Regions from separate parts of the Homo sapiens genome. Here regions 1, 2, 3, 4, 5 and 7 are each reported to be linked to region 6. Evidence: microRNA targets listed by miRTarBase, many of them from high-throughput screens and not tested one by one. Region 6 holds a microRNA gene; each other region holds the end of a gene's coding sequence. Distances are between the middles of the regions.

Region 1 (4,065 bases), not on the chromosome of region 6:
GTTACCAGCTTCTCTCTGTAGCCTTCAGCAGTGTTTGCATCTCTGACATAACCACAGGCTGCTGTTTTCAAGAAGAGCAATCTGTTTGGATAAGAAAAACCTTTACTTTACAGCTTCCCTTTATAATTTGTTACACAGGAATAGTTAAATGCATTTGTTTGTTTGTTTTTTGAGACAGAGTTTCACTCTTGTTGCCCAGGCTGGAGGGCAATGGCGCGATCTCAGCTCACTGCAACCTCCGTCTCCTGGGTTCTTGATTCTCCTGTGTCAGCCTTCTGAGTAGCTAGGATTACAGATGCCTATCACCATGCCTGGGTAATTTTTGTATTTTTAGTTGAGATGGGGTTTCACCATGTTGGCCAGGCTGGTCTCGAACTTCTGACCTCAGATGATCTGCCCGCCTCAGCCTCCCAAAGTGCTGGGATTACAGGCATGAGCCACCACGCCCAGCCATCAATGCATTTTTTTTATTTTTTTTTTGAGACAGAGTTTCGCACTTCTTGCCCAGGCTGGAGTACAATGGTGCGATCTTGGCTCACTGCAACCTCCACCTCCTGGGTTCAAGCGCTTCTCCAGCCTCAGCCTCCTGAGTAGCTGGGATTACAGGTATGTGCCACCATGCCTGGCTAATTTTGTATTTTTAGTAGAGACGGGGTTTCTCCATGTTGGTCAGACTGGTCTTGAACTCCCGACCTCAGGTAATCCGCCCGCCTCGGCCTCCCAAAATGCTGGGATTAGAGGTGTGAGCCACTGTGCCCAGCCCATCAATGTGTTTTAAAGCTAGCTGTCAGGGTTCCACTTAATTTAAAGCTGGGCAGGGAGATGTGTAATGATTTCAAAGTTAACACCTGTTTGTTTTCTAAAGGGCATGCCAAGTCCTGCTGTATCAGGGAAGTATTCTGTGCTAAAATCAGCGATGGTTCATTGCTCTAGTCTCTCTCACCCTTCTAGGCAGTGCATCAGTCAGCTCTAAATCTGGTGCAGAGGGTTAACAGCATAACCCTTGTTGGCAAAATGGAATAGATGTTAAGACCTCAAATAGGGATTTGGGATGAAACAGCTGCAGTTAGCACTGTTATCTGAGCATGAAAGAACTGGAAACGCTCCTTACGTCGAGATGTTGGACCTTGAAGCCCTCCTGAGGCCAACATGCAAATCTGGCTGTGACGGTTCATCTGACACCTGTGTAAAGCTGACCAGCCTGCTCTGTACAGTGACAATGAGGAGCCCCTCTCTTCCTTAAGTAGGAATCTGTGAAGCAAAATGTTTGCTGCCAAAGACAAATCAGACTGTCAGTCATTAAAAACAGCATTAGCAGGATGAGGATAGCAATGGGGAAGGGTTGTGGGCAATGCAGTAACAGGGAAATGGCTTCAGAAATGGTTTGAGTTGGAAGACAACATTCTTCATCTCTCAGGACTTCTAATTCCTTGATGCTAAAAGAAGAGGCATGGATTCTATGAGCTTCCAAGTCCCTTTCCACTTTAACCTTCTACAAATCTTTCAGAGGACTGCCTAGTAGCAAAGGTTATTCCTGGACACAGGAAAGACGGGCATTACAGGGACCAAAGCTCTGAAAGGTGACTTTTATTACCAACACACTGGCTGGAAAAGGGACAAACCACATCACGGGTGAGTGATACTTCTCAGTCTTCTCTACTCATTCAACAAAGGAAATGTGGGCTGGGGCAGAGGTCTTTTTTCATTTAATACTGGAAAAATATTGAAGAGCATCCATGTTCACTTATGGCTGGTTTTGCTATAGAAATTGGAAAATAAAGGCCACTTTTTTGAAATCCCCAGTTTAATTAAACCAGATTTTGGCCTATTGGTATAAACACATCAGAAGGTAAGTTTGAGGTTAGCTAGCAGCTAACTAGTTCTAATAGAACCAGTCACAGAATAGTGGGCTAAGATTAGAGGTAAAACTCATTCTAGGCCAGTGGTTCTCAACTTTACCATATTGCGAGCTTAAAAAAAAAAAACACAACCTGGGGGGTCCCCCTGCCCCACTAAAATTTTGATTTAATTGGTCTGGAATATAGGCCAGGCGTTAGGATTTTAAAAAGATATCCTCAGGTGATTCTATTGCATAGCCCAGGTTGAGAAGCACTGCCCCACCCCGCTGAGATTCTGCATTTCTAACCAGCTCCTAGGTGAAGTCCATGCTGCTGTTACAGACCACACTTTGAGCAGCAAGAATCTGACTTTAGAGATACACTCAGGATTAAAGTATGAATGAAAATATGAATCTTAAGGGTATTTTTCTAGTCACTAAACTAGGGATTTACAGCAGCAGTAGAATGGAGAGTAAGACCAAAAGAACGAAAAATAAATTCATTTACTAATAAAGGAAAGGGGAAAGAACAGCCCTTCATGGGCAAAAGCTTCTACCATGAACATTTATTTTTGTTAAAGCAGATTATAAATTTTCATCAGTACAAATATATATAACTTACATTTGATTGTAAGGCCAACGTTCAAAAGTAAAAATGAGATGAGCTCTCTTATTGTTATCCGAGGTCAAGAGGCTGCAACTGTCAAGGGGATGTTCTCACCAAAAGGGGGTTTGGGGGAAGAGGACACACACAAAGCTAATAAAACCAGAATCCCCATCCCCACAAAACTCATGGGAACAAAATTTAAAGGATAAAACAAAACCCACCAAGACCCATATTACAAACCAATATGGTAACCTGTGTTCCCTTCTATGGTATGATTATGTCATGTTACCTTAGTGTTAAAGGATTAACATAAGGAAACTGCAGCAATATATAAAAGATATATTCTCTATAGAGCATATTTCGATTGATTCCATTAAAATAATGACATTAGAATTCCATCATAGGTTTAAAACCAGGACAATACTGCTTTTCCTTTATTTAAAAAAAACTACAACCTAGTGACTGTATTGGTCATAAGCATGATTGTTGTTGCAATGTGCTACTTACAATGAATGACTGACAGAAAACAAGCTAGGGATCCTGTCTGCAGCTTCCAGCCTTTCCTCTTTTTATTTCAGTAGGCATCAATGATAAATCAATCTTATGTACAATTTCTTACAACTAGCCCCTTTACCTTTGGCAAGATTACTTACAACTCATACAACTTCTTAATATCTGAGAACTATTTAAAATATTCTAAATGCATAAAAATAAAGATTTTGGCTTTTGATATATATAATATTTATTCTGTTACTCAAAATGGAAGCTCAACTTCTCCCCCAAAATATAGCTCTGCTGGGCAGTTGCTGATATGCCCTCCTGGGAATTCTGGCAGCATAGCGTGCCTCTCTGTTCCCCAGCCTGAGCACAAACCACTCTTCTTGATCTCTAATACAGGCCACTACTGACAGGAGGCAGGTGAATGGCCTGAAAAACAAAGGGAGATTGCTTTGCTTCCTGTTGTGTTTTACATTTCAGTAAATGTGCTTGGAATATAGATTCTTGTTCAGATACTTTGCCTCTCTGTTGCCAGAGATTTGTAAGGGGGTAAGGGAAGAGGGAGTACAGAAAGCAACATTTCCTTGACTTCTTTAGCCTAATTGCAAGGCAGCTTTTCTCTAGGAATGCTTTTTCCCATGTCTTTCAAAATCACCCCTCACAGTACTCTGGGCCTGGACTTGTTCCTTGGGACCTTTGGGATTAGTGAAAAGAGTACTAATCAGGAGACAAAGTCTGTTTTGCTCCTTTGACCGCTACCCCCTGCTCCCTGTCTGGTATGGACAAGATACATAGCCATAATGATTGCTTAAAGTTCAATTTCAAACGTCTTCTGTAAGTCACTGGAGAAAGGGTTGGTAGGGGAGGGATTAGTACGCTGCTTGGACTTATTTTCTAATGCAGCCCACTGGGCTTCAAAAGGATCCACTGGGCAGGTGCCTGTAGGAACCTCTGTATGCCTGTCTGCTGAGGCCAACCTGCCATCATCTACACCATTGAAAGCTGCAGAACCGTTGAGGTGCTGAGCAGGAGGCTTAAAGAAGGGACTGGTGGTAGCACTGCTTGCCTCGTAGTGAGGGAATGTCTGCTGCCTGACCAGGCTGGGTGACTGATGGGGATGGGC
Region 2 (4,058 bases), not on the chromosome of region 6:
TTCCACTGTTGCATACAGCTCACCTCCTCTACCAGTCCCAGAGCTCTAGAGCCCTTTGGTTGTAGAAAAATCTAGGCAGATGCTTTCATCACTGCCCTGGTCTTTCTCAACTTTCTTTCTTTTTTTTTTTGTTTTTTTTTTTTTGTTTGTTTGTTTGTTTAAGACAGAGTCTCACTTTGTCACCCAGGCTAGAGTGCAGTGGTGCGATCTCGGCTTGCTGCAACCTCCGCTTCCCAGGTTCAAGTGATTCTTGTACCTCGACCTCCCCAATAGCTGGGATCACAGGCATGCACCACTACACCCAGCTAATTTTTGTATTTTTAGTAGAGGTGGGGTTGGACCATGTTGGCCAGGCTTGTCCCCGTCTCAGGTGATCTGTTCACCTCAGCCTCCCAAAGTGCTGGGATTACAGGTGTGACCCACCACACCCCGCCCTTCCTCAACTTTCCCCTTCACCTGAAGTCCAGCCTCTTCCCAAGCCTGAAGGTCCAAGGCACATACTCCTCAGCTGGACCAGGCTTACCCCAATCTGGCCTCAATTTTCACTCTTGCCTTATCTTCTACAACTGCCATAAATGTACGCTCAACTGCAGGCAAATCAGACCATTGAGCAATTTCCTAAACATACCCTGCTTACCTGCATCCATGCCTCTATTTTGGCTGATCCCTCTACTTGAAATGCCTCTTCACCAAATTCTACCGCTGAGGTCATCTCCTCCCCTCCATGGAGCCTTCCCTTATCTCACAAAATCCATACGATCTCCCTTGTTTGACTCCTTGTAATACTTAACACATTGCTCACCTTCACCCCATTGTCAGAAAGGCCTTACTCATCCCTATCCTGTATCCAGCACAGTTTCTTGCTCCCAGTAGGTGCTCAGTACATGCTCATAGTTAGAATTGGTAGTAGGTAGATGGAATTGTAGGTGAAAGGGAGACAGGTCTCAATAACCTTTATTTGTTTGTTTTTTTTTGAGATGTGGTCTGGCTCTGTTGCCCAGGCTGGAGTGCAGAGGCCCAGTCTTGGCTAACTGCAACCTCCTCCTCCCAGGTTCAAGCAATTCAGCGATTCTTGTGCCTCAGCCTCCTGAGTAGCTAGAATTATAGGTGCACACCACCACACCTGGCTAACTTTTGTATTTTTGGTAGAGACAGAGTTTCACCATGTTGGAGGCTGGTCTGGAATTCCTGACCTCAAGGGCAGATCTCAGGAACCTTTGATCTCTGCCCAAGGTGACACTCCTCCAGCTAGAGCTAACTTGAAACCTGGCAGTCCGGGTTCCTGGAAGTCTCTGGGATGAATCTTCCTGGATAGCTCTGACCAGTGTCTTCCCTCCGGTTCAGAAACCCAAAGAGGACACCTTCCTCCACTGAACCAAGGCCAGCGGCCCAGCTCCTGTCAGATCGTCGCCACCCCCCACCGCAGGCGGTCCTGCCCCACTCCGAGTTCTGCCCAGAGTCCCTCTGGGTGCGGGCGGGAGTGAGGTCGAGATAATTGGAGACTAAAGCCATAAGTGGTTTGAGAGCGGGGTTGGGGACCTGAACGCTGAGCGGGAGTTGGAGTTGAGGGGTCTGGGTTGGAGTGGGAGCAGAGGCGGGCAGGGGGCCGGGGGCTGGGGGCCGGGGCAGGACCGGGCGACTGAGTCTGGGAGAAGCCCCCGCGCCCGCGGAGCCGGCAGCTAAATTTACCCCGGCTGACTCAGCCCTTGCCCGGAATGGGGGGTGGGGGGAGGGCGCCAGGGCAGTGGGAAGAGCCGACAGGGGTGGGCTGGGGGCAAGGAAGGGAGAGTCCCGGCTGGGGGAGAAAAGAGGTGGGCCAGGAGCTCCCAACGAAGAAAGCAGCCCCCTCCCCTCACACAGAGCGGGAAGTAGCAGAGGAGTCCCGGGGGAGGGCCACTGTGGGGAAAGGGTCAGTGAAAGGAAGACGATGCCAAGGCTGGATAAAGGGAAGCTTAGATTTATTGAGCGCCTACTGTGTGCCAGGCAGTGTGCAAGGCGCTTTACATACATTATCGCATTAAATCCTCACAACAACCCTGCGAGGTAGGTGTTTATAAACCCCCATTTGACAGATGAGGAAACTGAGGCTCAGGGAGGTGAAGTGATGTGGCCAAGTTCACATGGCTAATAAATGGCAGACAGAGGAGGTGTCCAAGGATCGGAGAGAAAAAAAAAAAGACTTCGGTGTCTGAGTCCCAAGCCGGCTGGGGTGGATGAGTACAAAGATGGGCCCGGCGGGCTCTAGAAGTCTGGGAGGCCGGAGGCCTGCTCCCGGCCCCGCACGGCTGGAGACTGCAAGGCGGGGGACCCGCGCTCGGGAACTAGGGATAGGATTGAGTGGCAGAGCCGGGATTAGCAACTGGGGAGATCCGCGACCTGCGCGCGCCCTGTAGTGGCTATAGAGAGTATCACACCCCACGCCTGCTGGCTTCTGGTGACCGGCCTCTTTCCTTGCCTGGCCGGTTTCTGGAAGAGGCCAAGATGGGAGAAATTCTCAGGATTTTTTCAGGTGGGCGATACCACCTGGGAGGGAGATCGTGGCCACGCCTCAGAGCATCACTAAGGAGCATCGGGGTGGAGGAAAAGGGGAAGGCCTAAAGAGGTCCCAAGCTGATTCATTGGTGTCCTTCCCTCCCCAGCTCAGACCACCACAGGCCAGGGTCAGTGACAGGGCCGCTATCTTGCCCTGCCTTGGGGAGCCCTCAACCAAACCTGGGAGACTGGGATAGGAGTGCCTCACTCCCTTACCTCTTCTGCAAGCCTTGGGCAGTCTCCTGAATTGATCATGACTTTGGGTGACACGGAGGCCGCCCAGAAACCCTCAAACTCTGTTCACTTATTCCCAATTCTCATTCTTGGCTTGTCGAGGGGAGGATGAGATAGAGTCCTTTCCAAAGATCTCAAAATGTCAGAGACGGAAGGATGGACCTTAGAATACCATCATTTTATATACCAGGAGGCCTGGAGGCCTGGAGAGGGAAAGTGACTGGCCTCAGTCAACCAGCAACTCAGTGGCAGAGTTGGGATTGAAATCCAAGACTTGTGACACCAAGGTGAGCCCTCCTTCTGCTTTGTTGGTTGTTGCTGGACCTATGCCTCTTCTCCCAAGAACCCCTCTGTCATCTGATCACTCTGTCACCAGGTCCAAAGCCTCTCCTTCACTTTTTCCCTCCTCCTCAGAGGCCCTACCCTACCCTGCCCTCCTATGGCTGCCACCATCCCTGCCCTCCTGCCTGATCCTGGTTAGGCCTCTCTGCTCAGCTCCACACCCAGTGCATCAGCCCCTGCGAAGAGCTCACCCTTGTGCCCTGAACATAACAGACATTAATTAAATCTGCTCATTCTCACCTCTCCTGAAACAAAATCATTAATGGGCATATGCTTCCCTTCCTTTCATTTATATTTCAAGGATGAGAACAGGTATGGGTAAAGATACAAGGAAAAGAGAAGCAAAGGAAGTCTGTGGGGAAGAATGGGGACCAGTGGACCCAAGGATGGATGCGTTGGGGACACAAATACAAGAAGGGGCCTCTCACTGCCTCTTCCTATTTCCCTGTTGGGTCCCTCTGATGTCCCTCACCCCGAAGAGGACCTCCTCGGTTTGGCTTATGACATCTAGGATCTCCCCGACACTGTCGCTCAGTTCCGCTGTCTTCCCATCTTCCTCTGGCGAACTGTTTCCAACCTCGGGCAGGGTCCTCTCATTCCGCCAGGAGGCGCCCGGGGCTTCTGTGTCGCTTCCATCAGAGGAGCCGCTATGGACGCTGAGCTCCTCAGCTTCGTCCGTGTCCGAGTCAGGGGCTGTGTGGCGGCGGATACGGGACACGGCTTCTCGCAGGGCCCCGGCGTAGGGCCCTGGGGTCCGCGCCCAGCCCCGGCCGGCGCGCCGCTGGACCACCGCCACTTCCGACCCCTCGGCTCTGCCCTGGGCTCCCGAAGCTGCTGGGCCTAAGGCTTGGTGCTCTGGGCTACCTGGCTGCGTGGGGGCGTCCCGCAGGTTTACTTCGGGGGCCGGGAGCCCCAAGATGCGGAAAGTGCGCTCCTCCAGTGTGGAGTCC
Region 3 (4,065 bases), 4.6 Mb from region 6:
AGGCGTGAGCCACTGCGCCTGGCCTAGGATTTTAAGTCTTAACGAGCATTTTGGTTCTGCTGATGACAACGGGAAAAAGTAACATGAGGGGACTGATTGGTCCCCTTATGTTATATGGGAGCCTTTTTTTTTGAGACAGGATCTCACTGTGGCCCAGGCTGGAGTGCAGTTGTGCAATCTCAGCTCGCTGTAGCCTCCACCTCCTGGACTCAAGTGGTCCTCCCACCTCAGCCTCCTGAGTAGCTTCGGACTATAGGCATACACCACCACGTGCCCAGCTAATTTTTGTATTTTTGCTAGAGACAGGGTTTCGCCATGTTGCCCAGGCTGGTCTTGAACTCCTGACCTCCACTGACCCACCCACCTCAGCCTCCCACAGTGCTGGGCTTACACACGTGAGCCACACAGTGCTGGGCTTACACACGTGAGCCACCATGCTGAGGAGACTGTTTTAAATGCTCTCTTCTTTGGTTTTTCAGCCTGAGAGACACTCTCGTAAGTTACATGCAAACTAAAGAAAGTGAAATTCTTCCTGAAATGGCATCTCAGTTCCCAGAAGAGATACTGCTCGCCAGCTGTGTCTCAGTGTGGAAAACAGCTGCTGTGCTGAAATGGAATCGAGAAATGAGATAGAATTATTTCCTCAGCTATCTTTGGATGACTTTGGAGAGAAGACTCCTCTCTCCTCGTCTGCGGCGTGGACTTGATCATGGACTGGTGCCTTTGCATTCAGAAGGAGAGCTGTCAGCGTAGCACCGAATTCAAGACCAAGGCGTGCTACCTGAGCTGACAGCTTTTTGAAAGCCGAGCTGTTTCTGAACCATGTACATACATGTTCTGAAACTTTCTCATCATTTTATGAGTACTGTTCATTGAGAGATGACAATGAAGATTAGATGAAATTGGAAATAAACCAACATTGTTTACATTCCAGGAGACTTGTAGCTCAGCCACACACGCAGTAATGACCTGTGCCCGTTCGCCTCTGGCACTGCCCACCCCTCTTTTTTTTTTTCTTCTAATTCTGTACTCACAAAAGAGAATCTCATTTTCTTCTTTCTTCCATTCCCTTAAATTCTGAGTACTGTACATATATTTCTGGGTTCCCACGATGATGTGAAAAACTACCAGACTGTTTTTTGTCTTCTCACAAAGACAAGAAAAATCAGGGCATTTTGTGAGTGCCTTAAGATCAAACTAACAAGATCTGACCCTCTCCCCTCACAGTGAGCCACTGCCCCACTTCAGAGGGTAAGAGCCAAAAGCCTCATTGTGAAAGGCACTGGACTTGGACCAGGGACACCATCAGGGCCTTGGTTTTCTCACGCATAAAATGGAGAGTGGATTAATCGCCAAAGATTCTTCTGATCTGACATTTTGAAATTGTGAGAGAAACTAGATGACTGTAAACTTGGTCACAGGCCTGGTTCTGGCAGTTCTTTGCGGACTTTTTTCTAGCATTATGCCAAATAAACATGCAGTCTCAGTGTGCTCTCGCATGTATGAATATCTAGTCCTTTCTGTGGTTCTCAGCCAAGACATAAAAACTAGGACTCAGAGCACATACAAAACCAGTTATGTTTCGGAAAGAGGGAAAAGAGTCCCCGAGCCCGGATCTTGTGCTGCTTTTCTCACTGACGTGTTGCCTTTTTTCTTTACAAAATCTGCTTTGATACTTAGGACCTCTCTGGACTAATTTCTCTTCCTAGACAGCTCAGCACAGCTATTGATATGTTAGAGGCAGTATCCTTAATATTCATTCTAAATGAGTTAACGACTTAACTTGAAATTGGGCCTAAGGAGTGAGAACTACAAAAATACAAAATGCTTGTCCAGGACTCAGCCATGCACACCTTGAGCAGCGCCGGCAGGAGGCACGGAAGGAACTGTGCTCCGTTCTCCTCACTGTCATGGTGCCACCAGTGTCTGATGAAGGGCAGAGTGACCCAGACTGCAGGCAGTAACTGACTTCACACAGTCCCTGGCATTTAGTCATCTGTGATTGTTTTATCACTCTGGACTGTGCAGAGCCACCTGCCACCGAGATCTGCATTCCGACTGCCTATGAACGGGTGTGGGGGCCGGGGGCTGGCTTGCTGAAGTCTTCAACTTGCACTCGGAGCTCCTTTGATACCTCAGAGCTGGCTGTCAGGTGGCAGCTCACACCCAGACTCACTGGCCACACCTCAGCAGGGGGGGAGTCGAGTGTCAGTCTCTTTCTGTGAAGGCTTTTTTTTTCCTTTGGCCTGGGAATTTTTCCCATTTTTATGAAGGGGTTTTAAATTGTTTCATTTTGTGTGCTGTGCTTCAAAGCCTTAACTGTCAAATCTTGCATTATCTTGTTTGTACAGAAATATACTGGCCTAGCAGAGGCAAAAAAAAAAAAAATGAATTTTATTTTACTTGTCACACCTGTCTTAATAAACTGGAGTTTTGCTGCTAAAGAACTCTTCTCTCTGGGGGCAGAGCTTCTATTTATGGCACATAGACATCAGCTAGGCTTTTGGGAATCGTTTGTGTTCTTTGTGGAAATGTCCTTTAGAAGCACCCATGAAGTAGTGTGTTCAGACTGTGCACACAGAAAACAGGCTCTGCCTTCACATGTGAGACGGTGGACTTTTCCTCTGGACAAAATGACAGCATCCTGGCGACTCCACAGTGGAGCTGAGCGCCACTCCCTGTAGCCGATCTGGGACTGAAACGCTTACACCTCTGCCTCAGAAGGAGTCCCCCATGCCCTGCCTGAAATGACTTCACTGGACACAGCGGGGCTGCAGCTAACGGGGTACAGGTAGGAGCTAACTAACTTCACCCCTGAGTCCACTTGCGGGGTAAGAGATAAACAGTAACCCTTCCAGGAGCCCACTGACGTTGGAGTGCTAAAAATGCCCCTTCAGGGGGAAAACTGCATTTTCTCTTCCAAAAAGGAAAGGTTCTTCCAGGCGAGAAACCTGTGGTCTAGAACCACAGCAAGAAGAGGAGGCATGCTGGCCTGCACCGGAAGACTCACTTTGTCTGCCCTGCGCCAGCCTCACCTCACCCTGCAGTTCCCGTTTCCGCCATGGATGCCTCATCACCAACCCTGACCTTCCCCCTCCCAACCCTTTATTCATCCTCACTCCCACTCATACCCGCCTCCCTGGACAGTTCCCTGCTGCAGAGTTCTTTCTGCTTTCAGCCCTACCTTGGTGGTGATTTACCTGAAAATCTTCACAACTGATCATTATCTCCTTCTCTTTGAGACCTGACTGAAAAAATTAGGTGTGCACACCTGTAATCCCAGCTACCTGGGAGGCTGAGGTATGAGGATTGCTTGAGCCTGGGAGTTTGAGGCTGCAGTGAGCTATGATTGCACCACTGCACTCCAACCTGGGTGACAGAGTGAGACCCTGTCTCAAAAAAAAATAAAATAAGGACCTTATTGTGTGTGCAAATTATTTGCCTTTCATGAATAGTTATGAGACTTTGTGCATGTGTTAACCGAGACGGCCCTGAGCTATTTCAGTTACTCCTGTATGTTCAGGCAATTCCAATTTAGAAACAAACTTCCAGTGATAAATATTGGGAAGAAAATGTCAGCTCAGGGCCAAGTAGGTAAAGCCACCCAAGTCTAGCCATGCACACAGGCACTAGTGTGCTGAAGGAAAACACCTCTGATTTGATACATAAAGTGTGAAGGTTGCATAACTGGGGAGGTGGCTGGAGAAAACCTGAGCCTCGAGCTGAGTAACAATCCAAGCCATGATTAGCATTTATATTGCATTCTGCATTATTCTCATCCTATCACGTTCATTAAGTTCAACCATTACCATTACGAATCCCGTTTCCAGCTGGAAAAACAAGCGCCAGGAAAGTGCATTTCCCCCCCACCCCCCCCCCCCAACCAGAGCAACTTTGGTCAGAAGTCACACCTAATCACCCTCTCTGCAGGATATGCTGGGGATAGCCCTTTTGAGGAGGTGGGGGTGTATGCGAAAGCAACCTGGGGCCAAAGCAGGGGGAAGCAGGAGAGACTGGAGGGGCCCTGGGTCCAGCAAGTGCTCCACCAGGCTGCCCCTGCTCAGG
Region 4 (4,065 bases), 39 Mb from region 6:
AAATAAAAAGCATTCAGAATCTCTAGTCCCTGAAGCCGAAAGAATGGAACCCAGTCTTTGTTTAATCACAGCTCTAAACAGAAAACAGTTAATATTTTTCTTGCTGTCAAATATAACAACTGGCCTGATCAACCTGATGGTAGATACATTACACAGCAGTACCTTGTGGGCCTTATTTGTGGTCAATCTCTATATGTTTTCCAACTGTTTAATTGTATATGTACTATATTTGCAAGATAAGACTGTACAATTTTGGTGATCAGCAGGAGTAGGATATATAAGTATTTGGGCAATATTTAATGAGGAATATTAATTGTAAAGAAATTGTGCTTTTGGCAACAGTGTTAACCATATTTTATTATAAAATAGTTTCAGTCATCTAAACAGCAGTGATGCTTAATTATTTTTTTTTTTGAGACAGAGTCTTGCTCTGTTACCCAGGCTGGAGTGTAGTGGTGCCATCTCAGCTCACTGCAACCTCCACCTCCCGGGTTCAAGCAATTCTCCTGCCTCAGCCTCCTGAGTAGCTGGCACTGTAGGCATGTACCACCATGCCCAGCTAATTTTTATATTTTTAGTAGAGATGGGGTTTTGCCATATTGGCCAGGCTGGTCTCAAACTCCTGAACTCAAGTGATAACACCCACCTTGGCCTCCCAAAGTGCTGGGATTACAGGTGTGAGCCACCACACTGGGCCAATGCTTAATATTTTAATGTATCTCAACAATAAAACCAAGAAGAAACAAAGCCTTTTGACTTGTTAGAATGTATTAAGTAGTATTTTAAAGAAACTTTATAGTTGTGACATTGAAAGACTGTTGGGGTGGGGGGAGGAAAATTTTTACTTTCCATCTTAATGTAACCTTATGCTATTCTGTATTTTTACTGTATATTGCTTTTACAATAAATATAAAATGAAATGTTTATGTTGACATTTCAGTGTGAACTGTGGATTGTCAATACTTGTTTATTGCTCAATTTAAATTTTTGAATAAAACCTAGGACTAAGAAGCAAGTGTTTAAAATCAAACACTCCAATGTGCAGATGGGTGGATATAAAAAGAAAAATTTTAAAAATAAAATACTTATATACTATGAAGTCAGACAGTTAAATGCACCAAAGAATAGATGGAAGGCTGGGCATGGTGACTCACGCCTGTAATCCTAGCACTTTGGGAGGCTGAGGTGGGAGGATTGCTTGGGCCCAGGAGTTCAAGACCATCCTGGGAAACAGTGAGACCCTGTCTACAAAAAAAAAAATAGACTGAATTGGATGTTATATTATAGCTTATACACATAATAATTACGAGACAAAGTTTTGCTTTGGGATTAATTCATCTTTTAGCCTACCCTATGCTAGGGATTTAAGAAGCACAGCACAAATTTCCTGATACCTCAGAGCTTGCAATCTAGTGGAGGAAACAGACATTAAACATCTATTGTGAAATGCTAAGTTATGAAGAAAAAGCATAGGTTGTCAAGAGTGTCAAATCAAGAACTGACCTAGTAAGGAGTCAAGTTTTCCCCACAGATTTTTTTTTTTTTTTGAGCTAGAGCTGATTAGTGGGATGAGGAGTTATAAAGTCTTATGTGTCTGGGGGCTGGGGGGCAAATGGCAGAGAACATTATAGATGGATGACTCCCTCAGCAAAAGTCCTACGTTGGGAGGGCACCAAGCACATAATGGAATTGAAAGAAGGCTGAACACAGAAGAAGGAAGAGCATGGGCAGAGAGCTGGAGAGGCAGGCAGGGGCCACATCAGGCATCCTCACCTACCATGCTAAGGGAAAGGAGAACCAATAAGAAAGATGAGAGTCATCAAGTACCCAGTGTAATTTAATAAAACTATGGCTAAATTAAGGTTTAATTTAAATCTGTAAAAAATAGAGATGGGGTTGCCCAGGCTGGTCTCAAATTCCTGGCTTCACGTGATCCTCCCATCACAGCCTCCCAAAGTGCTGGGATTACAGGCGTCGTGATCCTGGCCTATAATGACGTTTAATATTCTACTGTCTTTTTTTTTTTTTTTTGAGATGGAGTCTTGCTCTGTCTCCCAGGCTGGAGTGCAGTGGCACAGTCTTGGTTCACTACAACCTCCGCCTCCCAGATTCAAGCAATTCTTCTGCCTCAGCCTCCCGAGGAGCTGGGATTACAGGCACACGCCACTTCGCCTGGCTAATTTTTGTATTTTTAGTAGAGATGAGGTTTTACCATGTTGGCCAGGCCAGTCTCGAACTCCTGTCCTCAAGTGATCCGCCCACCTTGGTCTCCCAAAGTGCTGGGATATAGGCATGAGCCACCGCACCCAACCAGGTGTGTTTATTTTTGACAGATAAAACAGAACTTCCCAGTGTCAGCTCATGAAAAAGAAAACCCAATCCACAGATCCTCAGGTTTAGGTCACTATGGTAATTTAAATAACATTCTGTGGCCATAGATTGTCTTACCACATAAAACTGTGGTTATTATAATGAAACAACAAAAAGTCTTCTAATCAACTATCATTTTCCTTGCAACTATCAATTTTTGAGGGCAGAGGAGAGGGAAAGATAACAAAGTGAGGAGTAAGAAGAACATAATCTGTCCAGGACCTCAGCCTATCTATGCCCTTCAGAAAGTGACTCCCATAATTTTAATTTTTTTTTTTTGAGGCGCAGTCTTGCTCTGTTACCCAGGCTAGAGTGCAGTGGCACGATCTCCTGCCTCTGCCTCCCGAGTAGCTGGGACTACAGGTGCCCGCCACCACACCCGGCTGATTTTTTGTATTTTTATTAGAGACGGGGTTTCACCGTTAGCCAAGATGGTCTGGATCTCCTGACCTCGTGATCCGCCTGCCTCGGCCTCCCAAAGTGCTGGGATTACAGGTGCGAGCCACCGCACCCGGCCAATTTTAATTTTACACAATTATAAACTGGGGATGTCTACTACACGTGCCCCAGTAGCTCTTGTGTGCCGAAGATGACAACCAGTTTTATTTTTATTGAGCATAAATGTCCAATGTATTTATATAAATCATACAAGAACCTTATGTTCCTCCCTAGGAGTTTAAATATAGTCTATGAAGCTAAGACATAATAAGGAATACCTTGGTACTTTTCATTTTTTTTAAACCTAGGTAGCCTGGAGAACAGATAGATCTCATTTATGCCTGCATTTTGTGGCTAGCGTCTCACACATTTGGACCTAAGAAAAAGAATGGTAGTTTGCTGATAATTTATTACAGCTCCGTCCCTCCAACTGTTCTTTATTAGGTACCAGCAAAATGTGTTCTGCTGTTGATTGCCTTTACTTTCCTGGCCTTTCAAATCCTTTGAACTTGCATTTCACAATGCCAATATCAAAATGAAATAATAGGCAACAGACAACTGTCTTTTAATGTAGCAATTATATATTTCGTCAATTAGAGGTTTGCTCTCTAAAAGCAGATACTTTTCATTTTAAAGTACATAGGATAATTCTCAAGAAGTATTTGCTGCAGTACTGGTGGTTATGGCTAAAAATAGAGCAATAGTGAAAATAAAAATAAGTGCCTACTCTAAAACCAGGAAGATGCACAGTGAAAACTTTGAAAAATTATTTTGCCATGAAATAATTTTCTAAGCGTTTTCCTTGGGATATTGATTTTATTGTATCGATTGTATTATATTGTATGGTATTAGATTAGATTAGATTGGATTGGATTTATAGCACCCAGGCTACCTCCTTGAGAAACAGCAACTTACCTAGCAAATCCACCTTTTTCGCCTTTAAGAATACGTTTTCATTGAATTCCTATTTGTCCAAAGATACTAAGTATGCCCGGTGGACCTAAGAGACAAACCCAAATTAGGGAAAGTAAGCTCAGATGGAAAGAGACCTTTGGGATTTCATTTTATTATGTTTTATATATGTTTTAATACCTTTTCACAGATTTAAATCCCCAGGGTGAATACTCCCTTCTTTGTTAGTACCTGGCGTGTGTTCAGTAGTCAAAGTAATTAAAATTAGCACCTATATAATGAGCTTGTCATTTTTAATGTTCTTTACCAACCAGAATCCTAATGAAGTCTAAAAGGTTTAGGCTG
Region 5 (4,065 bases), not on the chromosome of region 6:
AGGCTGGAAGACAGCAATAAGCTCAAGCGTTCCTTCTCTCTGGATATCAAATCAGTTTCATATTCAGCCAGCATGGCAGCATCCTTACATGGCTTCTCCTCATCAGAAGATGCTTTGGAATACTACAAACCTTCCACTACTCTGGATGGGACCAACAAGCTATGCCAGTTCTCCCCTGTTCAGGAACTATCGGAGCAGACTCCCGAAACCAGTCCTGATAAGGAGGAAGCCAGCATCCCCAAGAAGCTGCAGACCGCCAGGCCTTCAGACAGCCAGAGCAAGCGATTGCATTCGGTCAGAACCAGCAGCAGTGGCACCGCCCAGAGGTCCCTTTTATCTCCACTGCATCGAAGTGGGAGCGTGGAGGACAATTACCACACCAGCTTCCTTTTCGGCCTTTCCACCAGCCAGCAGCACCTCACGAAGTCTGCTGGCCTGGGCCTTAAGGGCTGGCACTCGGATATCTTGGCCCCCCAGACCTCTACCCCTTCCCTGACCAGCAGCTGGTATTTTGCCACAGAGTCCTCACACTTCTACTCTGCCTCAGCCATCTACGGAGGCAGTGCCAGTTACTCTGCCTACAGCTGCAGCCAGCTGCCCACTTGCGGAGACCAAGTCTATTCTGTGCGCAGGCGGCAGAAGCCAAGTGACAGAGCTGACTCGCGGCGGAGCTGGCATGAAGAGAGCCCCTTTGAAAAGCAGTTTAAACGCAGAAGCTGCCAAATGGAATTTGGAGAGAGCATCATGTCAGAGAACAGGTCACGGGAAGAGCTGGGGAAAGTGGGCAGTCAGTCTAGCTTTTCGGGCAGCATGGAAATCATTGAGGTCTCCTGAGAAGAAAGACACTTGTGACTTCTATAGACAATTTTTTTTTCTTGTTCACAAAAAAATTCCCTGTAAATCTGAAATATATATATGTACATACATATATATTTTTGGAAAATGGAGCTATGGTGTAAAAGCAACAGGTGGATCAACCCAGTTGTTACTCTCTTAACATCTGCATTTGAGAGATCAGCTAATACTTCTCTCAACAAAAATGGAAGGGCAGATGCTAGAATCCCCCCTAGACGGAGGAAAACCATTTTATTCAGTGAATTACACATCCTCTTGTTCTTAAAAAAGCAAGTGTCTTTGGTGTTGGAGGACAAAATCCCCTACCATTTTCACGTTGTGCTACTAAGAGATCTCAAATATTAGTCTTTGTCCGGACCCTTCCATAGTACACCTTAGCGCTGAGACTGAGCCAGCTTGGGGGTCAGGTAGGTAGACCCTGTTAGGGACAGAGCCTAGTGGTAAATCCAAGAGAAATGATCCTATCCAAAGCTGATTCACAAACCCACGCTCACCTGACAGCCGAGGGACACGAGCATCACTCTGCTGGACGGACCATTAGGGGCCTTGCCAAGGTCTACCTTAGAGCAAACCCAGTACCTCAGACAGGAAAGTCGGGGCTTTGACCACTACCATATCTGGTAGCCCATTTTCTAGGCATTGTGAATAGGTAGGTAGCTAGTCACACTTTTCAGACCAATTCAAACTGTCTATGCACAAAATTCCCGTGGGCCTAGATGGAGATAATTTTTTTTTCTTCTCAGCTTTATGAAGAGAAGGGAAACTGTCTAGGATTCAGCTGAACCACCAGGAACCTGGCAACATCACGATTTAAGCTAAGGTTGGGAGGCTAACGAGTCTACCTCCCTCTTTGTAAATCAAAGAATTGTTTAAAATGGGATTGTCAATCCTTTAAATAAAGATGAACTTGGTTTCAAGCCAAATGTGAATTTATTTGGGTTGGTAGCAGAGCAGCAGCACCTTCAAATTCTCAGCCAAAGCAGATGTTTTTGCCCTTTCTGCTTCACTGCATGGATACAGTTGGTAAAATGTAATAATATGGCAGAATTTTATAGGAAACTTCCTAGGGAGGTAAATTATGGGAAGATTAAGAAAGGTACAAATTGCTGAGGAGAAGCAGGAAACCTGTTTCCTTAGTGGCTTTTATCCCCTCGGCATGCGATGGGGCTGATGTTTCTATGATTGCCTCAGACTTTCACATTTACTAGTAGGGCTGAGAGAGGCTTTAGTGAGGAAGGAATATTCAGAATAAAACGGTTGAGAAAGCTGAGAAGACCATTGAGTTTTGATCAGTTGTGAATAGAGTGCAAAGCCATGGCCAAGCTGTTTTTGGAAACGCTGGCCGGCGTGTCTTCAGTGGAAAAAGCAAATCAAAATGGAGCGAGAGCAAAGGGGCGTCCTCAGTCCTCAACCTACAATCACTGTATGGAATCGGTCCTGGCAGCTGAACATAGGAGGTCACTGGAACAAGTGATAGTGCAGATTGGCTTTCAAACATCCTCCTGGCTTGAGTTTTATCAGCTACAATGTGGGTCCTCTTTTGAAGCCTTAATTCACAACAGCAGCTTTTTGGGGGTGGGGCTGGGCGGGTGTTGTCATTGTTCTTTCCCTTCCTGTAAGTGTCGCTAGTTGCTGCCTCGTATCTCAGGTTTTTCTCTGTTTTTGAGAAATGGACAGTTTTTTGACCAGGATGTGACTTCATGTTTCCTATGGTGACTTCTAAAACCAGCACAGAATGATATGACTCAACACAGACCGACTTGGTTATGGGGATGATGAGCCGCACAGACCTCACTAGTTGTGCACAAATAATGTGCTATGATGGGGTGTAAAGTGAAGGCAGAAGAGGGTCAGCCGCATTGTTATGATACTGGGAAAGTGCTGGTCAACGATTTGAGTTAGTTTTTAGATATACATTGAAATCTTTAATCAGACATTCTCAAGTTTCACACAGTAGTTTTTGATGTTATGTACACACACACCAAATGTGTAACAGTTCACCACTTCCAGAGTGTGGTCATGCCCAAAACATGTTTAAGAAAGGAAAGCAGTAGCTCCTTGCTAACGATGTTTCAGGAGGTTTGGGGGACTTGGTTTTAATGAGCTTCTGTCATTTAGGGCTTCTCTTGGCCATGGTCCCCCTTCCTTCTGGAACTGTGATGTAGTCACATCCTACAGCCTTTAGTGCTGGTTCACTAGTGTCAGATAATCAGTTCTTGGAATCGAGACTGCCGTGGCGAAGGGGTGGCCTCGGAGGCAGGCTCTGGAGCTGCTTGGATGTCTTTAGGTGGGGTGGTGGCTGGCTCTCTTCAGCATGTAATTGGGGAAACCCTCGCGTCTACTAGGGGTGATACAGATGGTGATTTTAAAGAGCAAAACTAGACTTCTATGTGAGAAGTGCTGGAAAATGATTTAGGACATGTGTAAAGTTAGATGGAAAGACTGTAAATGTTTAATATGAATATAGTGTTCTTTTGAAGTAAGGCCAGCTGTTGAACGGTTAAACTGTGCATTTCTCATTTTGATGTGTCATGTATGTTAATGTATGAAATGATTAAATAAAATCAAAACTGGTACCTGTTTATACATAAATACGAGAAAAGACCTATCTTTGCAGCCATAAACTCGGTGGGAACACCACCACTCAAGTTGCCAAAGGAGGCAGTGGTGAAACCTGTCCTGTTCTCACTTAAATGAGGATTTAGCTCAAAATAAAGTGGTGGTGTCATCAGGTTTATTCCGTGTTCTGTCATTCACATGGAACACCGGATGATTAGCTAACAGTTTAGTGCCAGCCTTCATTCTTTACTGTGTACGTTAAATGCACACTACAGTGAAAAAGCCTAAGACACTTGGTAAATATTTTCTAGCTGACTGATTCCAGAACACACAAGTACATGGTAGGAAAAAAAAGGCCAGCTACACACACATGGCCCATTTCGATATAACATGTAAATGATGTTACGATTCCTACAGGAAAAACAGGAAGGGCAATTGTTGAAGAGCTGTCCTTTGTCCTTGCCACATACATCTCAACAACCTCTCTGCTCATGACACTAGATTTGATGACTTATGAGACTAGAAACTTAGTCTCATCAGTTTCATAAAAATTAGGCATTGAAGGAATAAAGCTTCAGTGCAAACAGATGGAATATTGACTACAGAAAGAATCACAGGTGACCTTGAAGTTGGTTGAGTTGAAGTTACATT
Region 6 (4,065 bases):
AGCCCTAGGAGGACTAGGGGATGAAGTTTTCCAGGTCATCACAGCTTCTGAATGCTAGTAAGTCTAGCAAGAAAGACCACTGATTTCTATCTCTGATTTTTGGAAATACAAATATAAAAACACACATACATATGAACAGACAAAGAGATAAGAACACCTACAACCTCCCATCAAGCTTGGCTATTTCACCTACTCCTGTTGATTTCCTAAGACACCTCAAGAGCCAGGTCCCATTACTCTATACTTACCCACAAGGAATGGAAAGGCAGGCTTTTTTTTTGTTTTTGTTTCTGTTTTTTGAGACGGAGTTTTGCTCTTGTCGCTCAGGCTGGAGTGCAGTGGCACGATCTCGGCTCACTGCCACCTCCGCCTCCCGGGTTCAAGCGATTCTCCTGCCTCAGCCTCCTGAGTAGCTGGGATTACAGGCGCCCGCCAGCACACCCAGCTAATTTTTTGTATTTTTAGTAGAGACGGGGTTTTGCCATATTGGGCAGGCTGGTCTCTTCACTCCTGACCTCATGCGATCCGCCTCGGCCTCCCAAAATGCTGTGATTACAGGCGTGAGAGCTACCACGCCCGGCAGGAAAGACAGGTTTTAAACAAATGAGCATCAAGAGGACAAAGACTCAGATACTGACATTTAATCAGCTGTTCACTTGTTTCACCTGTCAATTCCAAAATAAGAAAGCCTTTCTATTACAGATTCCATAGTATGCTCAATGACAACACAACACAGAAACACAAGTTGCTGAAGCCAAGACTCTCGTGACTCAAAATGTGTTTATTTTGCTAAAAACAGTGATCTGAGCAACCAGAGATTATAAAGAAGTTCCAATTACGTGAAGTTTCCAGATTCGAAAATCAAGACTACACCATTCAACTCATCAGTAGTCTTTGAGCTAAGAACATCTCACCAAAATCAATGGAAAGACTGCGAAAGATCTCCAGTAAGAAAGGACCAGGAAAGCAATGTCCATATCAGAAAAGGAATGGTTAACGTGAGTCAGACTGTAGTCAAGAAGCTTAAATGATTTCAGCCAACAACAAAGAATCCCACAAAGAAACCATACACTTCCTATAACCAATGTTCCCCAACCCCAGAACAGTTTCCCAAGGTCTTCTATAACAAGAGTTCCTCCTGACTGGTTTGAGTTCTTTCTACTCCAACAGATGATTCTGTTCTTCGTTCACTGAACAACTTAAGAGCTGTTCAACCCCCCAGGTTCCAAAACCTCTCGCAGCTGGGGATCCTTTTAAACATGCACATCACTCAGGAGCCCATGGGGATGAGAGGCATTCACAGAGCATCAGGGAAAATGGAAAGCAACATTTTGCTTAACAGGAGAAACCGCCCCTTATTCATCTTTCTCCCACATCACCTAACTCTAGGGAATGCTTAACGTGGCTTGAAGGAAATGAAGACAGCGACCTAAAAGCACACAGATGCAAGACTTCCAGGAAGAGGTTTTCCCATCCTGCTGGACTCCTGTAGTGTCAGTATTTGGGGCTCCCTCTAATGCTACATTTCTGCTGAGCCTGCAGACATACTTGGAACCCATCACCTTCGGGCTCCCAGACTCAGGCTCCGCACAGCCCGCGAGGGAAACGGTCATGGGCACGCACGGACACGTTTCCATCTTTGCATGTTTATCTACGTCGACTGTGAATTCAAGCAAGTGTGGCCCTCGTGGACAACCTACGAGCCTTAGGGACACAAAAGGCTTCCTGCGCAAACTGCACGGAATCTCCTGACAGGACTTCACGTTAATCATCATTCATAGGTGGGTTCTGGGGCTGGACCCCACGGAACTCCTCTTGGTTGTGTCTTGGACTTCTCACTGCCCCAAAGGAGCCTACTACTGTGGTTTTATGGTCTGAGGAACAGTTAGGCCTCGAAGGCCTGGCCTAGGGAGAGTGCACTCTGCATCCCGAGCTCCCGCCTTCCCCACTCGGCGGCCGGGACCGAGTTTCCCGCCCCACAGCCCGACCAGAGGTTGGTGGCAGTTGGAGGCAGTTGGGACCGGCCCCAGCAGGTTGGAACCGGTCTGGGCCGGGCCGGAGGAGGAAGGGGGGGAGGAAGAGGCCGCCTCGCGCTCTCCCTGCGCGCGTGACTCACGCTGGCCGCTGACGTCAGGCGTGCGCGCGCGGCGGGGGGGGGGGGGCTCTACGTACGTGTAGTGCTGCGGTTTCTCGGGCTGTGCCTGCAGCACCTGAGCGGTAGCGGCCGGGGGCGCCGAGGAAGCTGCGGAGCCGCCGGGCCCGGGGCCCTTCGACATGGTCTTGTCTTCCTGCCTCTTCGCCGCTCCCCTTTTATTATTCAGTCTGCGCGGTCCGCGCCGAGGACCCAGTGCGCCTGCGCCGCGCCACGAGAACGTGAAGACCCCCCACACGGCAGCAGGGGTTGCTGGGAGTTGTGGTTCTATGTCCGGCTGGAATTTTACCGTCGGCAGAGGGTTGCTGGCAAAGCACAGGACCACAATACCCAGGGATCCTTGCTGCTAGTGTCCCGGATGCTGAGGGCCTGCGACGGCTTCTGGGAATTGCAGTCCGGTCGCATTTCTCCTTCTTACCAGCGCGTTTTCAGTTTCATAGGGAAGCCTTTCCATGAAACTGGAGCGCCTGGAGGAGAAGGGGCCCAGAGCTAGGGAGGCCCTAGCGATTTCTGCGAAAGAGTTCCAAGTATAATTTCACTGCCAACAGTGTCATAACTACTTTGCCTTTATACTTAGTACAGCTAGGTTCGGTTCTAATGCCAGCTCAGAGCAGTGCTCCAAGCAGGGCTTAAGAATCTGTGTTGTCGGTTCTTAGTTCTGGGCCCTGTGCTGCAGGCACCTGCAATCCGCCAGCAACCCCTTCATCCCTGCGGCGGGTCTAACCTAAGAGGCATTGAGAAAGCTTTGCTAAGGAGGAGGTACACCGCACGCTACAGTTCCCGCGCCTTTGCCGAGGCGCTTCATTTACCTTTGCCAAACTCGACACCTGGAACTCCACGACTTGTGTGCTTTCTCAGCCTGACACCTGGCCTGACCAACTTGTTTCCAGTACATTAAGGGCCAAGGACGAATTTAATCTCCGCCTAGAATAGTCTCTGAGGTACACTGACAAGTTGCCAGTGTTGAGAAGCATCACAGGGTCCAGAGGAAAGGCCTGGGTTTGAGTAGGGCGTGCCCGTATTTATCCACTCTAGTTTTCTTGTCTGGACGTCAGCCTTTTTACTTGGGACATTATCTTTCCCCTCTCTGCTTCCCACCAGTCAAGCAAAGTTCTTCACTTTATAAAATAAGCCAGATGCCCCAGACCTAGGCATTTGTTTCTGTGAGTTTTAGAATGTTCTCCGTAGATATTTTAACCGTTGTCATTTAATTTGGTTTTTCATATTGAATCTATTTCAAATCCACTGGTTTTGATTTATATTTTCTTAGATGGGATTATATTAACAAATGATTATCTCATTAAAGAAACACATTCCAAATAACCTTAGGGATGAAGGGTGGTGGGGCTAATGGAAAATCGTTAATGTTTGAGTGACACATACTTATTTTATTTAGCTCCAAGTTCCCTCACATCAGAAGCCACATCACAGAGTTGAGAAACTGGTTTTTCCTAAACAGGCTAAATCGTTTAGCCACTAGGGGCGTTTGAAAATGAAAAATTACAAAAGGACAAATAAAAGTTGTAGTATATTGCTTTAATCCTATGATTAAACGCAAGTTACTTGGTTTATGTTAGCCTCACAATACTCAAGTGTGATCTGACTGAAGAAATAGAGTTCACAGCACTGGATTTTAAATAATAGATGTATATCATGAGCTTCAGAATAAGTGTGTACTGGTGGAGTTGGGAGATGATATCATCCAAACTGCTTAATTTACAAAAGAGGAAACCGAAACCCAGAGAAGCTAAGTAACTTGCACAAAGTTACTCAGCAAGTTGGTAACAAGAGGAACTAGGACAGTAGCCTACAAGACTACATCACATTCACTGTTGGGTTTTGTTTGTTTTGTTTTCTTCTGCTTTTTTTCATTGTATAAACATTTTTTATTCTTCCTCATTTCCTGTGTTGCT
Region 7 (4,065 bases), not on the chromosome of region 6:
GATTTACTGAATCAGAATGTGCATTTTAAAAAGATTTCTGGCTGCCTTGTATGCACGTTACAGTTTGAGAAGCCCTGTTGTACAAAACAGTAAAAAAGAAAGGGAATGATGCCAGCTGGGCATTCGAGGAAGCTTGGGTAGAAGCAGGCATCAAGCAGAATTTTGAAGGATGTCCAGATATGGGTAATTTTGAGTTGACATAATATGGATATAGAAAAAGTTTTCTCCAAAATCTGTATCTCTAAACTAAATGCATTTTCCCTTTCCTTTTTCATCTCTCTCGTCTCCTCTTCTCCCTCTCTGCCTCTGCTCCTCTCCGCCTCTCAGGAACAGTATAAATTTGTATACGAGGTGGCACTGGAATATTTAAGCTCCTTTTAGCTCAATGGGATGGGGAACCTGCCGGAGTCCAGAGGCTGCTGTGACCAAGCCCCCTTTTGTGTGAATGGCAGTAACTGGGCTCAGGAGCTCTGAGGTGGCACCCTGCCTGACTCCAAGGAGAAGACTGGTGGCCCTGTGTTCCACGGGGGGCTCTGCACCTTCTGAGGGGTCTCCTGTTGCCGTGGGAGATGCTGCTCCAAAAGGCCCAGGCTTCCTTTTCAACCTAACCAGCCACAGCCAAGGGCCCAAGCAGAAGTACACCCACAAGCAAGGCCTTGGATTTCTGGCTCCCAGACCACCTGCTTTTGTTCTGAGTTTGTGGATCTCTTGGCAAGCCAACTGTGCAGGTGCTGGGGAGTGGGAGGCTCCCCTGCCCTCCTTCTCCTTAGGAGTGGAGGAGATGTGTGTTCTGCTCCTCTACGTCATGGAAAAGATTGAGGCTCTTGGGGGTCACTGCTCTGCTGCCCCCTGCAACCTCCTTCAGGGGCCTCTGGCACCAGACATTTGCAGTCTGGACCAGTGTGACCTTACGATGTTCCCTAGGCCACAAGAGAGGCCCCCCATCCTCACACCTAACCTGCATGGGGCTTCGCCCACAACCATTCTGTACCCCTTCCCCAGCCTGGGCCTTGACCGTCCAGCATTCACTGGCCGGCCAGCTGTGTCCACAGCAGTTTTTGATAAAGGTGTTCTTTGCTTTTTTGTGTGGTCAGTGGGAGGGGGTGGAACTGCAGGGAACTTCTCTGCTCCTCCTTGTCTTTGTAAAAAGGGACCACCTCCCTGGGGCAGGGCTTGGGCTGACCTGTAGGATGTAACCCCTGTGTTTCTTTGGTGGTAGCTTTCTTTGGAAGAGACAAACAAGATAAGATTTGATTATTTTCCAAAGTGTATGTGAAAAGAAACTTTCTTTTGGAGGGTGTAAAATCTTAGTCTCTTATGTCAAAAAGAAGGGGGCGGGGGAGTTTGAGTATGTACCTCTAAGACAAATCTCTCGGGCCTTTTATTTTTTCCTGGCAATGTCCTTAAAAGCTCCCACCCTGGGACAGCATGCCACTGAGCAAGGAGAGATGGGTGAGCCTGAAGATGGTCCCTTTGGTTTCTGGGGCAAATAGAGCACCAGCTTTGTGCATAATTTGGATGTCCAAATTTGAACTCCTTCCTAAAGAAACCCAGCAGCCACCTTGAAAAAGGCCATTGTGGAGCCCATTATACTTTGATTTAAAATAGGCCAAGAGAATCAGGCCTGGAGATCTAGGGTCTTGTCCAAAGTGTGAGTGAGTCAATGAGAGGGAACCAACATTTGCTAAGTCTCTACTGTATGCCAGGGATCATGCTTGGCACTTTCCATAGGACATTTCACACAGTCCTTAGAACCCCCAGGAGAGAGCTACTGACTTGTTATCATCTCCATTTGATCATCTCCTCCAATGAGGAAACCCACGCACCTTCCTTAGTAATGAAATCCTGGGTTCCAAAGGGGCAGGTAATGGCAATGAGACTTCTCCGTGCTGTTTTCTTCATCTTCTCTAAGCCAAGCAATTATTTTATGGAGGGAAAATAAGGCCAGAAACTTCTGAGCAGATAACTCCACAAATGGAAATTTAGTACTTTCTTCCTGATGCCAGTTCTTCTGGGAAGCGCAGAATTTCAGATATATTTTAGTAACACATTCCCAGCTCCCCAGGAAAGCCAGTCTCATCTAATTTCTTAGTCAGTAAAAACAATTCCCTGTTCCTTCAGGCTATGAATGGACCAGCCAGGGAAACTCTCGACCTTGATCTCTAGCCAGTGCTTAGGCCCAATATCTGACAGCCTCAGGTGGGCTGGGACCTAGGAAGCTCCATCTTGAAGGCTGGTCTAGCCCCAGACAGGGCATGAGGGGCAGAGAATTCAAGAAGGTACAGCTTTGGCCCTCAAGAGCCCACTGTATGCTGGGGAAATGGAACCATGGTGCAGTAGTGTGGAGTGGATGAGTGTTCCATGAGCCTAGGAGCAAGAAAGTCTCTTCGGCCTCGGGCTTCCTGGAGAAGGGGACGTCCATTCCTGCTGGGTCTTAACAAGCATAAAAAGGAAAAAAAGGAAACTCAGGCAAAGGGATCCATATGTGCAATGGCAAAGAAATGTGAAAAGGCATTGGGAGAAGCAGTCTGGGGGAGGCCAGCCCAGTGCGGGCACAGCACAACACGGGGAGCAGCAAGAGATGAGCCAGGGTCCAGGAGACAGATGCCCATCGCGAGTACAGACTTTGTCCTATTGGCAACAAGGAGTCCATGGAGCTTTAGAGAGATGCACTCAGCTTCGTGTTGGCCAAGACTCCTTCTGGGCCAATGGGGCTGCCTCTTTTCCTTTCATCAGACACTGTGAAAACATTCCCTTAAGCGTGCACTTTTTAATATCACATCTATTTGTCTGTCTGCTCATTGTTTTGTTGCTGGAACTAAATATGCAATGGATCATGAGACTCAGATTCTATGAGAAACCCAGGGTCTCTGCTTTACCACGGAGCAGGGTCACCAACCCAGATCTCCAGGCCCATGAGGATGGAACATGAAAGGAGCCGACAAAAGTTGCTTCCATTGGCATGGGCTCTGGAGCTGTCCAGAAGTCCAGGGACACCAGACTTGATCAAGGAAGGGCTGTCACTTTAGAGGTTCAAAAGGAAGTGCCTCAAAGCAAAGGCAAGCAAAGGAACCCCACGATGAACTTGCTCTTTTCCTTTGATGAGCCTCTCCCCAGGTGTATTTCAGCAGACCCCGGGGACCCACCCCCACTGGGCCTGCTGGCCTCCCTCGGCTCCAGCCCAATGCCCCAGCTGGCCTTCCCCAGCCTGCAAGGAGCCTGTAGCATGGCAAATCTGCCTGCTGTATGCTATTTTCTTAGATCTTGGTACATCCAGACAGGATGAGGGTGGAGGGAGAGCTATTTAACACAAATCCTAAGATTTTTTTCTGCTCAGGAAGGGGTGAAATAGCTGGCAGATACAAAAGACAGTGGCTTTTATCATTTTAAATGGTAGGAATTTAAGGTGTGACTTCAGGGAGAAACAAACTTGCAAAAAAAAAAAATCTCAGGCCATGTTGGGGTAACCCAGCAAGGGCCAGTGATGATTTCCCCCAGCTCATCCCCTTATTTTCCCACAACCCAACCATTCTCTAAAGCAGGACAGTGAATAGGTCTTAGGCCAGTGCACACAGGAAGAAATTGAGGCTTATGGATGGGGATGACTTCCCTAAGATCCCATGGGACAAGGATGTGGCAAGGCTTGGATGAGATGGGGCACCAGTGCCCAGGAATTTGAACATTTTCCTTTACCCAGGAAATCTCCGGAGCCAACACCACCACCCCCAGGGGGTCTCCCCACCCCACCCCATTTACAGGGTGAGCTCAGCCTGTCATGAGCAGAGGAAAATATTATTAATGCTCTCTGAGTCTTTACAACAGGAGCTCTTACCTCATAGATGTGGGCTCTGTTTGGGGAAGATGCAAGGAAGTAATGAGAAGCCCAGGAAATTTCTCCACCTGTGTTTATGGCCTAAATAGCTTCAGGATGTATCTTAGCTGCACTCCAACATTGCATCCTTTCTGGGGTGAAGAATCTGGGCCAACCAGGGGTCCTTGGGCCTCTAGAAGGCCACAGTAGGCCTCTCTTTGTGGGAATGGAAGGGGACAGTTTGCTTTTAGTGC

The links. The annotated mature microRNA hsa-miR-4738-3p reads UGAAACUGGAGCGCCUGGAGGA and lies in region 6 at 2,606-2,627, shown strand. An mRNA with a match to its seed (bases 2 to 7 or 8) in the 3' UTR can be bound and repressed. Matches are read on the target gene's strand: a 7mer-m8 pairs with bases 2 to 8, a 7mer-A1 pairs with bases 2 to 7 and ends in A, and an 8mer does both.
Region 1: miRTarBase lists NUMB as a target of hsa-miR-4738-3p. Seed matches in the 3' UTR shown: 7mer-m8 at 2,759-2,765.
Region 2: miRTarBase lists DDN as a target of hsa-miR-4738-3p. Seed matches in the 3' UTR shown: 7mer-m8 at 2,078-2,084.
Region 3: miRTarBase lists RNF213 as a target of hsa-miR-4738-3p. The part of its 3' UTR that is shown has no 7-base or 8-base seed match.
Region 4: the mRNA of PIGW is a reported target of hsa-miR-4738-3p. Seed matches in the 3' UTR shown: 7mer-A1 at 368-374.
Region 5: miRTarBase lists DUSP16 as a target of hsa-miR-4738-3p. Seed matches in the 3' UTR shown: 7mer-A1 at 2,798-2,804 and 8mer at 3,952-3,959.
Region 7: the mRNA of PTPRT is a reported target of hsa-miR-4738-3p. The part of its 3' UTR that is shown has no 7-base or 8-base seed match.

The regions. Positions count from the first base shown.
Region 1 is chr14:73,272,828-73,276,892 of GRCh38, forward strand. NUMB (NUMB endocytic adaptor protein) reads right to left here. Exons shown (of 13, transcript NM_001005743.2): 13 at 2,389-4,065. The coding sequence ends at 3,751. It overlaps PAPLN (papilin, proteoglycan like sulfated glycoprotein), which reads left to right. Exons shown (of 27, transcript NM_001365906.3): 27 at 1-1,796. Among named protein-coding and RNA genes, the nearest start is that of PAPLN-AS1, 29 kb to the left of the region's middle. RefSeq lists an enhancer at 3,701-4,065.
Region 2 is chr12:48,993,208-48,997,265 of GRCh38, forward strand. DDN (dendrin) reads right to left here. Exons shown (of 2, transcript NM_015086.2): 2 at 1,942-4,058. The coding sequence ends at 3,533. Among named protein-coding and RNA genes, the nearest start is that of DDN-AS1, 3.1 kb to the right of the region's middle. RefSeq lists an enhancer at 2,259-2,553 and silencers at 2,259-2,553, 3,760-4,058.
Region 3 is chr17:80,392,866-80,396,930 of GRCh38, forward strand. It overlaps RNF213 (ring finger protein 213), which reads left to right. Exons shown (of 68, transcript NM_001256071.3): 68 at 480-4,065. The coding sequence ends at 633. All of the region lies in intron 1 of RNF213-AS1 (RNF213 antisense RNA 1), which reads right to left. Among named protein-coding and RNA genes, the nearest start is that of ENDOV, 20 kb to the right of the region's middle. RefSeq lists an enhancer at 2,404-2,905.
Region 4 is chr17:36,538,358-36,542,422 of GRCh38, forward strand. PIGW (phosphatidylinositol glycan anchor biosynthesis class W) reads left to right here. Exons shown (of 2, transcript NM_001346754.2): 2 at 1-946. The coding sequence ends at 259. It also overlaps a transcript of MYO19 not described here. Among named protein-coding and RNA genes, the nearest start is that of GGNBP2, 4.5 kb to the right of the region's middle.
Region 5 is chr12:12,473,602-12,477,666 of GRCh38, reverse strand. It overlaps DUSP16 (dual specificity phosphatase 16), which reads left to right. Exons shown (of 7, transcript NM_030640.3): 7 at 1-4,065. The coding sequence ends at 834. Among named protein-coding and RNA genes, the nearest start is that of DUSP16, 87 kb to the left of the region's middle.
Region 6 is chr17:75,783,092-75,787,156 of GRCh38, reverse strand. It overlaps MIR4738 (microRNA 4738), which reads left to right and starts at 2,550; the gene lies at 2,550-2,636. It overlaps UNK (unk zinc finger), which reads right to left and starts at 2,351. Exons shown (of 16, transcript NM_001080419.3): 1 at 2,173-2,351. The coding sequence starts at 2,276. RefSeq lists enhancers at 1,101-1,678, 1,690-2,089, 1,679-2,257, 3,820-3,999 and a silencer at 2,150-2,289.
Region 7 is chr20:42,077,195-42,081,259 of GRCh38, reverse strand. It overlaps PTPRT (protein tyrosine phosphatase receptor type T), which reads left to right. Exons shown (of 31, transcript NM_007050.6): 31 at 328-4,065. The coding sequence ends at 381. All of the region lies in intron 2 of LOC101927182 (a long non-coding RNA gene), which reads right to left. Among named protein-coding and RNA genes, the nearest start is that of CHD6, 460 kb to the right of the region's middle.